4 linked regions of the Homo sapiens genome follow. The protein of the gene in region 4 purifies or fractionates together with the protein of the main gene of each other region. This does not show direct contact. Each region holds a gene or a part of one and is shown on either strand. Other genes may lie near its edges.

Evidence for each region.
Region 1: the proteins of DOCK3 (region 4) and YME1L1 purify together in Homo sapiens (affinity purification with mass spectrometry, with the first as the bait; one large-scale study listed by BioGRID). This does not show direct contact.
Region 2: the proteins of DOCK3 (region 4) and GCN1 purify together in Homo sapiens (affinity purification with mass spectrometry; one large-scale study listed by BioGRID and IntAct). This does not show direct contact.
Region 3: the proteins of DOCK3 (region 4) and SURF4 purify together in Homo sapiens (affinity purification with mass spectrometry; one large-scale study listed by BioGRID and IntAct). This does not show direct contact.

What each region holds. Positions count from the first base shown.
Region 1 is NC_000010.11:27,151,585-27,155,681, reverse strand, and holds the start of YME1L1 (ATP-dependent zinc metalloprotease YME1L1), read left to right. Parts: upstream 1-1,297; 5' UTR 1,298-1,471; coding exon 1,472-1,504; intron 1,505-4,097. Other genes in the region: MASTL (serine/threonine-protein kinase greatwall), read right to left, coding at 70-255. UniProt on the Homo sapiens protein: ATP-dependent metalloprotease that catalyzes the degradation of folded and unfolded proteins with a suitable degron sequence in the mitochondrial intermembrane region.
Region 2 is NC_000012.12:120,135,716-120,139,215, reverse strand, and holds part of GCN1 (stalled ribosome sensor GCN1), read left to right. Parts: intron 1-359; coding exon 360-521; intron 522-800; coding exon 801-893; intron 894-1,171; coding exon 1,172-1,315; intron 1,316-1,401; coding exon 1,402-1,671; intron 1,672-1,896; coding exon 1,897-2,010; intron 2,011-2,483; coding exon 2,484-2,714; intron 2,715-3,500. UniProt on the Homo sapiens protein: Ribosome collision sensor that plays a key role in the RNF14-RNF25 translation quality control pathway, a pathway that takes place when a ribosome has stalled during translation, and which promotes ubiquitination and degradation of translation factors on stalled ribosomes.
Region 3 is NC_000009.12:133,363,513-133,366,060, reverse strand, and holds part of SURF4 (surfeit locus protein 4), read left to right. Parts: intron 1-32; coding exon 33-76; intron 77-1,034; coding exon 1,035-1,221; intron 1,222-2,301; coding exon 2,302-2,548. UniProt on the Homo sapiens protein: Endoplasmic reticulum cargo receptor that mediates the export of lipoproteins by recruiting cargos into COPII vesicles to facilitate their secretion.
Region 4 is NC_000003.12:51,381,313-51,384,698, reverse strand, and holds the end of DOCK3 (dedicator of cytokinesis protein 3), read right to left. Parts: coding exon 3,140-3,386; 3' UTR 501-3,139; downstream 1-500. UniProt on the Homo sapiens protein: Potential guanine nucleotide exchange factor (GEF). GEF proteins activate some small GTPases by exchanging bound GDP for free GTP.

The DNA.
Region 1 (4,097 bases), on a different chromosome or scaffold from region 4:
CCAAGCCGGTGGGGCAGGAAGGAGGGCCGAAGGGCCTAACCCCTTCCTTGCTACTCGTTGACTTCCTACCTTTACTGCATACAATTTGCCGCCTTTCTGCCCCAGATACACTTTCCCGAAGGCGCCCCGGCTAATGGGCTTCACTATGCTGAATTCCTCAATGGAGGGCGGTTTTGGCACTGCGATCCTATTCACGCCCTCCTCAGTCGCCGCGCCTCCTCCAGGCTCCTTCTTGCTTCCCGCGGTGGGATCCATCGCTGGACAGCATACAGCGGCCCCGCAGACACTGCCCCTCCGCGAGCAGCCACTCCCGCCAACTGGGTTCAAAGTGAGGCTCCGCCCACGCCGCGCGCGGCCGTGACGTCACCCCGCCGCCGCGCCCCGCCCTCGTCACCTCCCCTACGCAGACGCGGACGGAGGGGGCGTCGGGAAAGCCCCGACTTCGCAGCCTTACACTCTTCGTGGGCGGCGACCGCGGCCCCACTGACATCATTCCTCATGAGGGAGGAGGCACAAACAGTTCTGGGCCGACCAGAAAAAGGACGACTGGGACTTGACTCTGAATCGCAGGATTTGAAGAGATTTCTCCTGGCTTCCCAACGAGGCTGGTGGGAAGCGGTCCTCCTCCCATACACGACCTCCCACCCTCGCGAGGCGTAGAAACCAGTTCTGACTGTACAGTAAAGCGAGGGCCAGGGCTGAGGTCTGGAAGCTAATGAAAGCACAGAAAGTGTCGAAACTGGATGAGCAGGAAGCGAGTGGCCTCCCCTGTCATCTGACGTTTTCCCAGGATGTAATTTGCCTGACTGAAACAGATCAGGACCAACAGGGAGAGTTTTCGATTTAGTGTGAGGAAAAGAGCACTAAATTGTAGCAAAAGACCTTATTGCTCAAGGCCCAGTCAGAAGATTTCATAAGGAAGCTGTAGAAAGTCTTAAGAGGAAATCAGCCGGGCGTGGTGGCGGGCACCTGTAATCCCAGCTACTCGGGAGGCTGAGGCAGGAGAATCGCTTGAACCCGGGGAGCAGAGGTTGCAGTGAGCCGAGATCGCGCCACTGTACGCCAGCCTGGGCGAAAGAACGAAACTCCGTCTCCAAAAAAAAAAAAAACGAAGAAAAAGTCCAAAGAGGGTAAAGGCTGTTCTCCCCTTAAAAAACAGCTAAAGACCTTTGGGGGCGCTGCTCCTTGTAAATGTCAACTACTTCCGCGGGAAAGAACGCGCAGGCACTTGGCCTTGTGGGCGCTCACTTGCCCCGGAAGTACTGTTGAGTTAGCGCCTCGCCTTCCGGGGCGGATTGTCTGTCGTTGCAGTAGCTGTAGGAAGGGGAGGCCATTTTCCGTTTCTGGGAGGAGTGAGGGGCAACGGGTCGGAGAAAAAGGAAAAAAGAAGGGCTCAGCGCCTCCCCGCCGGGCCGTGGACAGAGGGGCACAGTTTCGGCAGGCGGGTGAGGTCGCTGAGGGCCCGCCGGAGATGTTTTCCTTGTCGAGCACGGTGCAACCCCAGGTAAGCCAGGCATTCAGCCCATTTTTTTTCCTCCCGCCCTGCCCGTGGCTGTTTGCAAATTGCGCTCGTGGAAGCGATTTCTCAGAAGGGACTCTAGAAATGAAGTGATGTACTCAATGCGAATCCCAGGATTGAGGAGTGGATCAGGGGACGACGCTGAGAGTGGGCCGGAGACTTCAGTGCTGACGATGAAGCTGTTGAGGGCAGAGGCGGGATGTGAGCTCAGTGATAGAGAGAGACCCTGGCTTATCGAACTGATTGCGTGGAATTTCTGCTAGAGAATCCGTCCGGCATTGTTCAGTGTCCGGCGTTCTGGGGTGGGAAAATGTCTGTACCATACATTAAAGGGAGCAGGTAATGTTCCCTTTTTTCCGACTTTCCAGTGGCTTTAGTGTTCACAGCCCCTATCCCCTGCTCTTTATTTCCTTTTAAATGGAATTTAAATTTAACCCAAACATGGTATAATATTTCGGATGGCCAGCCATGCAAGTTTTTTTCTCATTTTGACCAGAAGTAACTAAAATGTGTATTTCCGAGTCGTAAACTGTTTGCAGTTAAAATTTTGATTCAGCCTCATCCTCATCGTTTTGTAAAACAAAAGGTAGTGAAGAGAAAAATGATTTCAAGGGTTTTCATTACGCTCTTGGGCAATCACTTGTGACAATGTTTTATTCTTGCTTCATTCCAGTCTCTTTTTTTGATGGTAACATTTTAATAGATTTTTTGAGAGTTCCTACAGTTTTGCAAAGAAATAGTTTTTAAAACATTGAGTTTTTTTAAAACATAATTTTTAAGAAAATCGACACTCTTAGGTTCTTGATTTAAGCATATGATTGTGTTCCTTTGTGTAACTTTTACTCCCCCTCATTTTAAGAATTTTTAATTTTTTGTGCTAGTACTGGCTAACAAACTGAAGCAGCTGCTTGTTATTGGGCATCAGTTATGTACCAGGTGAGCAAAGCAAATGTGGAATCTTCTCTTAATATTGATATGAAGTAAATATGAGTAGGACTTAGCAAGGTGAAGAGTGAACAGGTATCACAGGCATACAGAAAAATACCTGGAGGTCCTGAGTTAGGAAAGGGTTTAGCAGGTTGAAGGAACAAAAATAAGGCTAGTGTGGCTAGAACATAGTAGTTAAAGGGGGTAGTGACAGAAGAGGTTGGAGAAAAGACTTGAGGCAGATCATACAGGGAGTAAAGGATATATTATGGCTGATTTCATTTTAAGTGTATTGGGAACCATTGAAAGTTTTAAAACATGATTAGATTTTCATTTTTAAGAGATGACTGGCTTTTGCTATATGGAGAATAGGAGAGGGCAAGAGTGGAAGATGTTATCAGCTAAAAATACCCACCCACCCCCCAATTAAAGCTGTTGCAGTGGTTATGGAAAGAAGAGAATGAGATATATTTTGAAGAAAGTGGAATTGCATGAGAGATCAGAGAGATGATGGGGAGAGGTGTTTCTGGGTTTGATCAGATGAATGCATTGAAGGTGCTATTTACCAAGATGACAGTGTCTGGAGAAGTCCTAGTAATTGTTTGAAAAAGAAGTCTGACATGGCCTATTGAATATGGTATTGAAGTTTTTGAAACTCAACTCTTTGCCTTAGTTCACATCAAGAGGCCTGATTTTAGGAGAATTTACCATCAACTGAATGGACAGTTAGTAGTATGTGATGTTGGTAGAGATGATAAAGGGATTTTTATGTACCCTAGGCAGTCTTAACAGGGCTCAAATATAGTGAGGACTCTCAGGCATTTCTTGCTTTGAAGGATGGTAACACATTTGGAATTCCTTGTTGCTTAATTGGTTGAATACACTTGAAATTAAATGGTAAAAAGGAAGACACAGAAAATGAACTTTTTCATTGAGAAGAGCTCAACTCTAAATCCTTTTGTGAAAGAAAAGAGATATAACTAATTCAAATAAAAGAGATATAACTAATTCAAATAAATCTTTTCAAAGAGGTAGAAAATATGTATCTTGAAATGATTTGATTATTTTTAAAGTTTCAAAAGAAGTTACTGTTTATTTTTTTTTCTTTTTACTGCCCCCAGGCTGTAAGGAACTTACTGTTTCTTTCTGACTCTAAAAATGATACATTGCTTCACTTGACTAGCCTTAAAACAAATCCATGTTTTTTTGCTAAAAATGCTGAAAGTATAAATAAGATCGCCCATAATCTCATTACTCAGGGATACGTATCTTAGACTAAATTCTTTCACACATTTTTTTCTATAAACAAACACGGGTATGCATACTTTTTTTTATTTTAATTTTTTTTTTTTTTTAAGATGGAGTCTCGCTCTGTCGCCCAGGCTGGAGTGCAGTGGCGCGATCTCCGCTCACTGCAAGCTCCGCCTCCCAGGTTCACGCCATTCTCCTGCCTCAGCCTCCCAAGTAGCTGGGACCACAGGCGCCCGCCACCACGCCCGGCTAATTTTTTGTATTTTTAGTAGAGATGGGGTTTCACCGTGTTAGCCAGGATGGTCTCCATCCCCTGACCTTGTGATCCGTCCGCCTCGGCCTCCCAGAGTGCTGGGATTACAGGCGTGAGCCACCGCGCCCCCACGGGTATGCATACTTA
Region 2 (3,500 bases), on a different chromosome or scaffold from region 4:
GCCTCAGCCTCCTGTGTAGCTGGGATTACAGGTGTGCACCACCACACCCAGCTAATTTTTGTATTTTTAGTAGAGATAGGGTTTTGCCATGTTGACCAGGCTGGTCTCGAACTCCTGGCCTCAAGTCATCCGCCCACCTTGGCCTCCCAAAGTGCTGGGATTACAGGTGTGAGCCACCGTGCCCGGCCCCTTCTCTCCTTTTTTTTATTTCACAGTAAAGAGTTAAGTTAAAAGACAAGTCAGGCAAAGAGAGTTAGGGTGGCCTAGCTGGGTCAGAGTCCCCTGCCTGTGCTTCTTGTCTGCTTCTGCTCCTTCTTTGCCTTTCCTGCATCTGGTACAGTTGTAGCTTGCCATTGCAGGTGCTGTATTTCTCTGAATCCCTCGTGCCCACGGCAAGGAAGGCTTTGTGTGACCCACTGGAGGAGGTCAGAGAGGCGGCAGCCAAGACTTTCGAGCAGCTGCATTCCACCATCGGCCACCAGGCTCTGGAGGACATTCTCCCATTTTTACTAAAGCAGCTGGTGAGTGGATCTACCACACACCTACCTACCAGTTTGGCTTTTGCCGTCTTTGTAGATGGAAAATACAGGGCGATTATTCTGCCAAGGCAGTCGCAATGTGGGCCCTCCAGAGGGAGTGGGTATAGCAAGATCAGACTTGGCTTTGTGCTTCGCCTTCGGCAGTGAGGAAATGTGGGTGCAACAGGAGGGAGGGAAACAAGTGGAGAAGGAAGTTGGCGGTGGCTGGTTGAGACAGCAGAGATGCAGATTCCTCAGGGTTGTCCCCAACACCCTCTGCAGGATGACGAGGAGGTGTCAGAGTTTGCCTTGGATGGTCTGAAGCAAGTCATGGCTATTAAGAGTCGTGTGGTGCTGCCCTACCTTGTGCCCAAGGTAAATCCCAACATGTGGTCAACACCCTCTGGCTCCAGGGCATTGACATTTCCAGGGCCTGCAGTGAAGACCAGTTCTGAACGTAGATGTTGGAGGGCTGGGGGAGGAGGGTGCAGTGCAAGCATTACATCCTTCCCCTGTTGTCTTCCAAGATATGCTGGAGTAGATGCTTGGCTCTGAGCAGTGGGCTTGGGCTCTCTTGCCCACCCGTCTGTTCCCAGAGCCTAGCGCAGCACCTGGCACAGTATTCACTGAGTTAATGTTTGTCATTCCACCAGCTGACAACGCCACCTGTCAACACCCGGGTGCTGGCTTTCCTTTCGTCAGTGGCTGGTGATGCCCTCACCCGTCATCTTGGCGTGATCCTCCCAGCGGTCATGCTGGCCCTGAAGGAAAAGCTTGGGACCCCAGATGAGCAGCTGGTAAGGGGCGAGCCTGCTCCTGCTTTCTCATGTCCCGTCTGCCCGGAGGATCCCTGCTCAGCACACATGTCCCTTGTGGTTTGCAGGAGATGGCCAATTGTCAGGCTGTGATCCTCTCCGTAGAGGATGACACAGGGCACCGGATCATCATCGAGGATCTGCTGGAGGCCACCCGCAGCCCTGAGGTGGGCATGAGGCAAGCTGCTGCCATCATCCTCAACATCTACTGTTCCCGCTCAAAGGCTGACTACACCAGCCACCTGCGGAGCCTGGTCTCGGGCCTGATCCGCCTCTTCAATGACTCCAGCCCTGTGGTTCTGGAGGAGAGCTGGGATGCCCTAAATGCCATCACTAAGGTGAGGGGACTGCTGACCCCACAGCCAACTTTTGCTTTTAGAAAATTCCAGACATTTACAGGAATAGACTTATAAGAATCCCCCACGTACCTGTCACTCAGCTTCGGCGTTTACCCACTCGTGGCAAGTCTTGTTTATACTCCCGCCCACGCTTTCCCCATATATTCTTTGGAAGCAGTCTTGAGAGGGCTGTACATCCTCTCGCTTTTTCCTGGATTCCTGCAGAAGCTGGATGCTGGCAACCAGTTGGCACTCATTGAAGAGCTGCACAAGGAAATCCGGCTCATAGGGAACGAGAGCAAAGGCGAGCATGTGCCAGGATTCTGCCTCCCGAAGAAGGTAAGCCAGGGCCTCGTGCAGGGGGCTGTGGGCGTGCAGTCTGTTGTGCCCTTCTGGCCCTTACCCCTGTCCCAGGTCTGCGGTAGGGGCTGCTGGAGCAGTAGCCGTGGTGGTTGGTGTTCAGCACCTTCGCAGACAGCATGTTTTCTTCCATGGCAGTCAGATGGGGACAGGGTTCATGCTGCCTTTGGTTTAAGCTCTGCAGGTCACCTTGGCCAGAGTGAGTGGGCCACAGGGTAACAGCAGTGCATGTTCTCTCTGTGTGATAGGCCTGTTGGGGCCCTTGTCGTCTTTTCTCTGCCAAGACCGTTCCATAGCCAGCCCTCTCAGGCTGTGATCCTGAGATTCAGCCCAAATCAATATCTCCCATGGAGTTGAGGGGAGGACAGCTGTCAGGACCACTTTGCTTGCATGGGAGACACCAGGGCCCAGGGTGTTTGAGATTTGACTCTCAGTTGTGGTTCTCTTGTCAGGGAGTGACCTCCATCCTTCCAGTGTTGCGGGAAGGAGTCCTGACTGGCAGCCCTGAGCAGAAGGAGGAGGCAGCCAAAGCCTTAGGCTTGGTAATCCGCCTGACCTCGGCTGACGCCCTGAGGCCCTCCGTGGTCAGCATCACTGGCCCTCTGATCCGCATCCTGGGGGACAGGTTCAGCTGGAATGTGAAGGCGGCTCTGCTCGAGACACTCAGCCTCTTGTTGGCTAAGGTGAGTGGCTGATGAGTTTGTTCAGATCTTAGAGAACAGGTCTGTCTGCAGGAGCCTGATACAAGGTGTCATGTAGCAGCAGGGCAACAGATTTATTGTGGAGAGCCGCATAGCAGAGGGAGGTAAGACCTTGGACTTCAGACATGCTACACCATGGGTCAATTCCAAGTCGTCCTTACTAGCTCTGTGACCAGGATGACCTTGGGAAAGCCATATAACCTAAGCCTGTTTCCTCACCTACAATGTGAGACTAATAATACCAGCTGCCTCATGAAGGGCTGCTAGATATGGGGATTAGATGAGGTTATGTCCAGCATGATGCCTGCTACATACTAAGCACTCAGTACATGTGAAATGCTATTATTTTGAAAAACTACTTTTTCAAAGGAAAAAATTCAGGACCACGTAAATACAAGGAAAACATTGTTTAAAGATATTGCAGTTTTTGTTTTTTTTTGTTTTTTGTTTTGTTTTGTTTTGTTTTTGAGACAGAGTCTAACTCTGTCACCCAGAGCTGGAGTGCAGTGGCGCGATCTCGGCTCACTGCAACCTCCGCCTCCTGGGTTCAAGCAATTCTTCTGCCTCAGCCTCCCAAGTAGCTGGGATTACAGGTGTCTGCCACTACACCTGGCTAATTTTTTTGTATTTTTAGTAGAGACAGGGTTTCACCAGGCTGGTCTCGAACTCCTGACCTCGCACAGCTCAGATTTACCAGCTCCCCCTATCCCCTTTGTGTGCCTGCCACAGCCTGCACACCCACCCAACTCCAGTATTTCCAGACCTTCA
Region 3 (2,548 bases), on a different chromosome or scaffold from region 4:
GACTCAAGTATCTCTCTCTTCTTTCCCCTCAGACGATTGCCTACAGCATTTTATGGGACTTGAAGTTTTTGATGAGGTATGTGCATTCTGGTTGGTTTTAGTATACGCTCCTTCTACAGGTTGAGCATTGCAAATCCAAAGTCTGAAATGCTCCAAAATGGGAAAAATCTTGGGCACCAACATGACGCTCAAAGGAAGTGCTCATTGGAGCATTTCAGGTTTTGGATTTTCAGATTTGGGATGCTCAGCCAATAAGTATATAATGCAAATATACCAAAATCTGAAACACTTTGGGTCCTAAGCATTTCAGGTTAGGGATACTCAATCTGTATTTCTAAACTCAGTTAACTATTGGTTTGAGTAGACTTCTCTGGGTCTAAACCAAGCTTGTCCAGCCTGTGGTCCACGGGGTGAACATGGCCCAACACAAACTCAAAAACTTTCTTAAAACATTGAGAGTTTTTTTTGTGATTTTTAAGTTTTATTTTTTAGCTCATCACCTATCATTAGCATTAGTGTATTTTATGTGTGGCCAAGACAGTTCTTCCAGGGTAGCCCAGGGAAGCCAAAAGATTGGACCCCCCTGTCTAAATTGTGCCTCTTAGAAACAGGTTCTGAAGAGGATGTTGCAGAGCCCCTAGAATAGTAGAGACTGAAGCCGTCTCTTCTGACCCTTATTTCACGGGTGTGGGGACTCCGGGTCTGAGTGGAGGACAGACCTGACCACGGGGACCCAGCTGGTCAACACTGAAGCTGTGACTAGGACTCGGTTGTGTGTGTGTTCAGGTAGCCTGTCACTGTCGAGTTGTAAAGATACCTCTGTCTCCTGAGCTATGTAAGGTTTTACATGGGTGTAACTCGAGTCTGAGGTCCTGTGCGCATGCCTGCCTGGTCCTGCTTGGCAGATCACTGGGTTTGGAGAAAGGGAAGTAAGGGCCTTCTTATACTGGCAGCAAGGTCTCCCTGCACCTGGTCTCACAGACAGGCCAGATCCTGGTGAGGCTTAGCTTCCAGCCCACATATCTGTTCCTCAGGAACCTGGCCCTGGGAGGAGGCCTGTTGCTGCTCCTAGCAGAATCCCGTTCTGAAGGGAAGAGCATGTTTGCGGGCGTCCCCACCATGCGTGAGAGCTCCCCCAAACAGTACATGCAGCTCGGAGGCAGGGTCTTGCTGGTTCTGATGTTCATGACCCTCCTTCACTTTGACGCCAGCTTCTTTTCTGTAAGTATTCCTACTTGCCTGAACCGGTCTGGTTTCCTGTGAATGCTGTCCCTCCCCCACCCCCTCCCTGCTCACCCCTCCCTGGTTGGGTATTAACCACAGCCTGGGGGAGCTGCTGAAATGGAGCAAACTTTTTTTTTTTTTTTTTTGAGACGGAGTCTCGCTCTGTCCCCCAGGCTGGAGTGCAGTGCGTGATCTCGGCTCACCGCAAGTTCCGCCTCCCGGGTTCACGCCATTCTCCTGCCTCAGCCTCCCGAGCAGCTGGGACTACAGGCGCCTGCCAACACGCCTGGCTAATTTTTTGTATTTTTAGTAGAGACAGGGTTTCACCGTGTTAGCCAGGATGGTCTCGATCTCCTGACCCCTCGTGATCTGCCTGTCTCAGCCTCCCAAATTGCTGGGATTACAGGCGTGAGCCACCGTGCTCGGCGGAGCAAACTTTTTGATCCCATTAAAACAGACCAAAACATCGTCAATCTCTTGTGTGTCAAGCCTTCTTTCCAGCAAATGAAGGCCAGAACCTCTGACCTTGGTGGAGTGTGCTTGGCCCTTGGTTGGCCAAGGCTCTCCACCCGGGCTCCCCTTACTCTTCTTTCTTTCCTCACTGTTCGTATCTTTCTCAAGTAATTCCTGTGTGTCAGGTGTCAGGGGCAGGCCTCCAGGAGCTTCCAGAGCACACCTCCGGAGCTGACTGAGAGCCCTGGCCGGGTAGTGTCCAGGAAGAGCTCCTGGCGCCATGGAGAGAGGAGAGAGGATGTTTCTGGCCTGGATGGCTGGGTGGGCCAAGAAGCACTTGGGAATTTAGTTATGGATTAGAGATTCATCTTGGTAAATCACAGCCTGTTACTAGTTGGGAACTTCAGTCTTCCCCAAACCTTCCACATTTCAAAGCTGGTGCTTTATTGCCTCCTGCCTCCCTTTGGCTTTTATCTCCCTACTTGCACCAGCAGCCGTCTCAGCAGTAGCTACATCAGCCTGATGGATAGAGACTTCATGACGTGCAGCAGCTGGAACTTTTGTTTATAAAGCATCTCTTTTCCTCACATTTATTTTGAATTTCTTACGTTTCAACCTATGCAGATTGTCCAGAACATCGTGGGCACAGCTCTGATGATTTTAGTGGCCATTGGTTTTAAAACCAAGCTGGCTGCTTTGACTCTTGTTGTGTGGCTCTTTGCCATCAACGTATATTTCAACGCCTTCTGGACCATTCCAGTCTACAAGCCCATGCATGACTTCCTGAAATACGACTTCTTCCAGACCATGTCGGTGATTGGGGGCTTGCTCCTGGTGGTGGCCCTGGGCCCTGGGGGTGTCTCCATGGATG
Region 4 (3,386 bases):
GCTGATAGGAGACGTGCGGGGTGGACGGACTGCGGGACATCTGAAGGAAGGGCTCAAGGCGCGCCAAGCTCAAAGCTGGGCCGCCACTCTAGACCGTGGAGGGAAGCGCCCGGGCCAGATCATCGGTCGAGGACATGGGGTCGCCTCAGAGTGGGAAGGTGAGGGGCTCGGGAGGTGCCCTTACAAGCTCTGAATCGTGGCTTGGTGGCTGGCCAGCCTCCTCCTGCCTCCCCGGCTAGGCCCTCGGGGTCCCCCGCTGCCGTGGGACCTCCTGAGTGGGGTCCCGGGAATCACCAGAGAAGCACTGGAGGATGTTTCCTTTTCGACTGCCCTCCTTTCAAGTGCCCTCCTGGCTGCCTGCCTTCAAGGCAGGATGCGGGAACCGTTGGCTCTACTCAGTGCAAAAAGGACATGTCTATAGGGCTAAAAAGGGCTTGGAGCCCGGCGACAAGGGTTGGAGAGGGGCACATCCTCTGCTCCCATTCAGTGAATTCAGTGGATCAGTATCACGTATTTATCTTTAATTCACATCACAGCAGTCAAGGAAGTGGGGAAAGGGGGAAAAAAAATCAAGTGGCAGATATTTACATCTAAAATTCACATTACTTGTTGGATTTTGAACATGCTACCACAATATATACAGTAAAATACCTCTTGGGACAATGGTACAAATTTTGTTTCCTTTAACTTTGCTTTTCTGGTACAGGTAAGATCATTTTTAAATCACTTTTTTTCTTTAAACATGAATACACAAAAGAAATGGTTAGAAGTTTCCTTGTTTTAAATAAGCACAGAATGCGGGAGGTTAAAAACACATTTATAGTGCTGAATACCAATTGGACATCACACTCTATACATTTTTTGCTCAAATTCCTGTACAAATACACAGCATTCAAATAGGTATTTACAAATAAGCTTGAAAGAATGAAAATCAGTATTTTACAATCTTTTCAAAGGGTTCTCATCTCTGGCCTCCCATTTCCCCTCAGACTGACTTATTCTCCAACAAAAGGGATTTCAGAATGTGTCCTTTTCATTTAGTTAGGGAAAATGGAGAGGGAAAACAAACGGTTTCACCTTGCATAATGCGAAGCCAAATGAACCCATACTCCCCTCCCTACCTCTTGTGCCACCAAGTGGAGAAGGTAGCTGTTCTTATGTGATGACTGCCTTGTCCAGGGATTGACTTTCAGAAGTGCCTTAAAATCTAAGCCCTCCTACCTATGAATCAAATCCAAAACTAGCCCCTAACCCCTAACCCTCTAACACCTGTGAACACCAGATGGTCCAGAGATTGAAGCTTGCAAATGAATGTAGGCTGAGAAGCAGGCCAGCCCTTTGAGGTGAGGGCTGCTGTAACTGACCCATATCCTCAGCAGCCTTCCGCCCCACTCTGCCTGGAGTGAACCTGGTGGTATCAGAAGGGACCCACACTGGTGATAAACCCCCAGAAAAACCCTGGAGGTAATTTAGACCTCCATCTTTCCCAGTAGGTTATTAGCATTTCTGTTAAACAAGCTGGGGTTTGTTTACAAGAGAAAAACACACTGACCATGGCCTTTACTGTCTGGAAAGAGGGGCAGTGGAGAAGGGACAAGGGGCTTGGGCCCAGGGCCTGGCTGTGGAGGTCATACAGGCCAGCAGAAGAGGAACTGGGGGCAATACGCCTGCCCAACAAGGCAGCCTTGTGACCATCATTAATGTGAACTCGAGCAAATAAAAGAAAAAAAATATTTTGTAGGCTTTTTTTAAAGTAACTTAAAAGCACCCTGGTAAAGTACTACTATACCCACCTGACCCTATCCCCCCAAATAATAAACTGAGAGGAAAATCAGTGCCCTGACTTGAATGAGTTTCCTCTAAAGACACCACTGCTCTGCTTTATAGTTTCCTATAAAGACACCAACAGACTGGGGAGACTGGAGAAACTACCCTCCTGCCAGCCCCGAACCCTGAGTGGTGGTCCCCATGGCCTGGAGTGGGTTGCTGTATGTGGCCACTTGGGAGATGACAATTCTACCTGCATGGCTATCTGCTTCCAAAAGGAGAAGCCCCCTCCCACCCTCTTTACCCAGGAGCCTGCTGAACCTGACCACATGTCCTCAGGGCCTGGAAGCCTGGCTGGGCAGCCAACCCCATGGCTCAGAGGTAGTGCTGAAAATCCCTGATTCAGGAGCTGATGGTAGGCATTCTGGATGCTTCTGAAAGCTTTGAGGATTTCCGGCGCCTGCCACACCCCACACTCTTACACCAGTCTCTCTACCACATAGGAAGGGGACCAGCTCCCCCTAGGAGGAAGGTAGCTAGGATAGCCTCTCTGGCTCCATACCTCCACTCAAACCCCAGAGGGCGGGAGATAACCCTTGCAGATCCAGTCACCACTGGGGCTCCTGTGGGGCATGAGGTGTTTCAAGAATGGAAGGGAGCAAATGGTCAGAAATGATGTGATGGAGAGAAAAATCCAAGGTGGAGTAGGAGACGGCTGGCCCATTGAACCCTGGCAGTGCCCTGGGCATGCAGTTAGGCCAGTCACATGCCTGAGCCAGCAGGTTGGTCCAGCCAGCCCCTCAGTAGCACACTCCTGGATGGAAGAGGGGCAGGTGGGCAGGCATTTGTGCAAAACGGCTTGTGGCCCTTTTTCCACCTGTGACATGTCTATATGGTCCTTGCAATCCCTGAATGCAACCATGAACTCTTCTGTCCATACAGCAAAGGAAGAGGTCCTTAGTGCAATTTCCATTCGGTGCATCTCTACCCTGGAGGGAGGGCCTGGGCTCCCACTCCTGGGCCCTGCAGTGTGGCAAAGTGATTCTGTCTGTGCAATTTCTCCATGTAGCTCCACATGGTCCAGAACTGCAGGAGGAAGAAAGCATCTACTGCATAAAGGAAAGAAAGGAAAACCCATAGAAATGGAAATGTAAAAAAATAAAAAGGGAAGCCACAACCCTTCATGCTGCTGTGGCCTCTGTACATGGCAACACATGAGTTCACGGCAGTAGAACGGAGACTTGGGGGTGGTTCTCTCCTGAGTGCAAGCCTCTCTGGCTCCCTGGGGTGGGGCTGGGGGACTTGCTTTTCAGACCTGGAGTGATTGGCAAGCTGCTTACTGAGGGCGGCATCCCAGCCGCCTCGTTGCCCCTCACTGCTCCCCTCGGCCGTGCTCCCAGGCCATGCGGGCCTGCTCCTCCTTAGCGCTCCCAGGAGGCAATGGAGCCTTGCGGTGCAGGCCTCGAGGCCTCTCAGTCTCTTCACGCAGCAGCACCCCCTCATCGTGCTCCAGGGCCGGCAGGCGGGGGTGGTAGGGCTTGGGCGGCAGCGCAGGCGGGTCCATGGGGTCCTGAGGGATGACGCACCCTGGGGCTGAGTGGCTTCGGCATGGCTGGGCC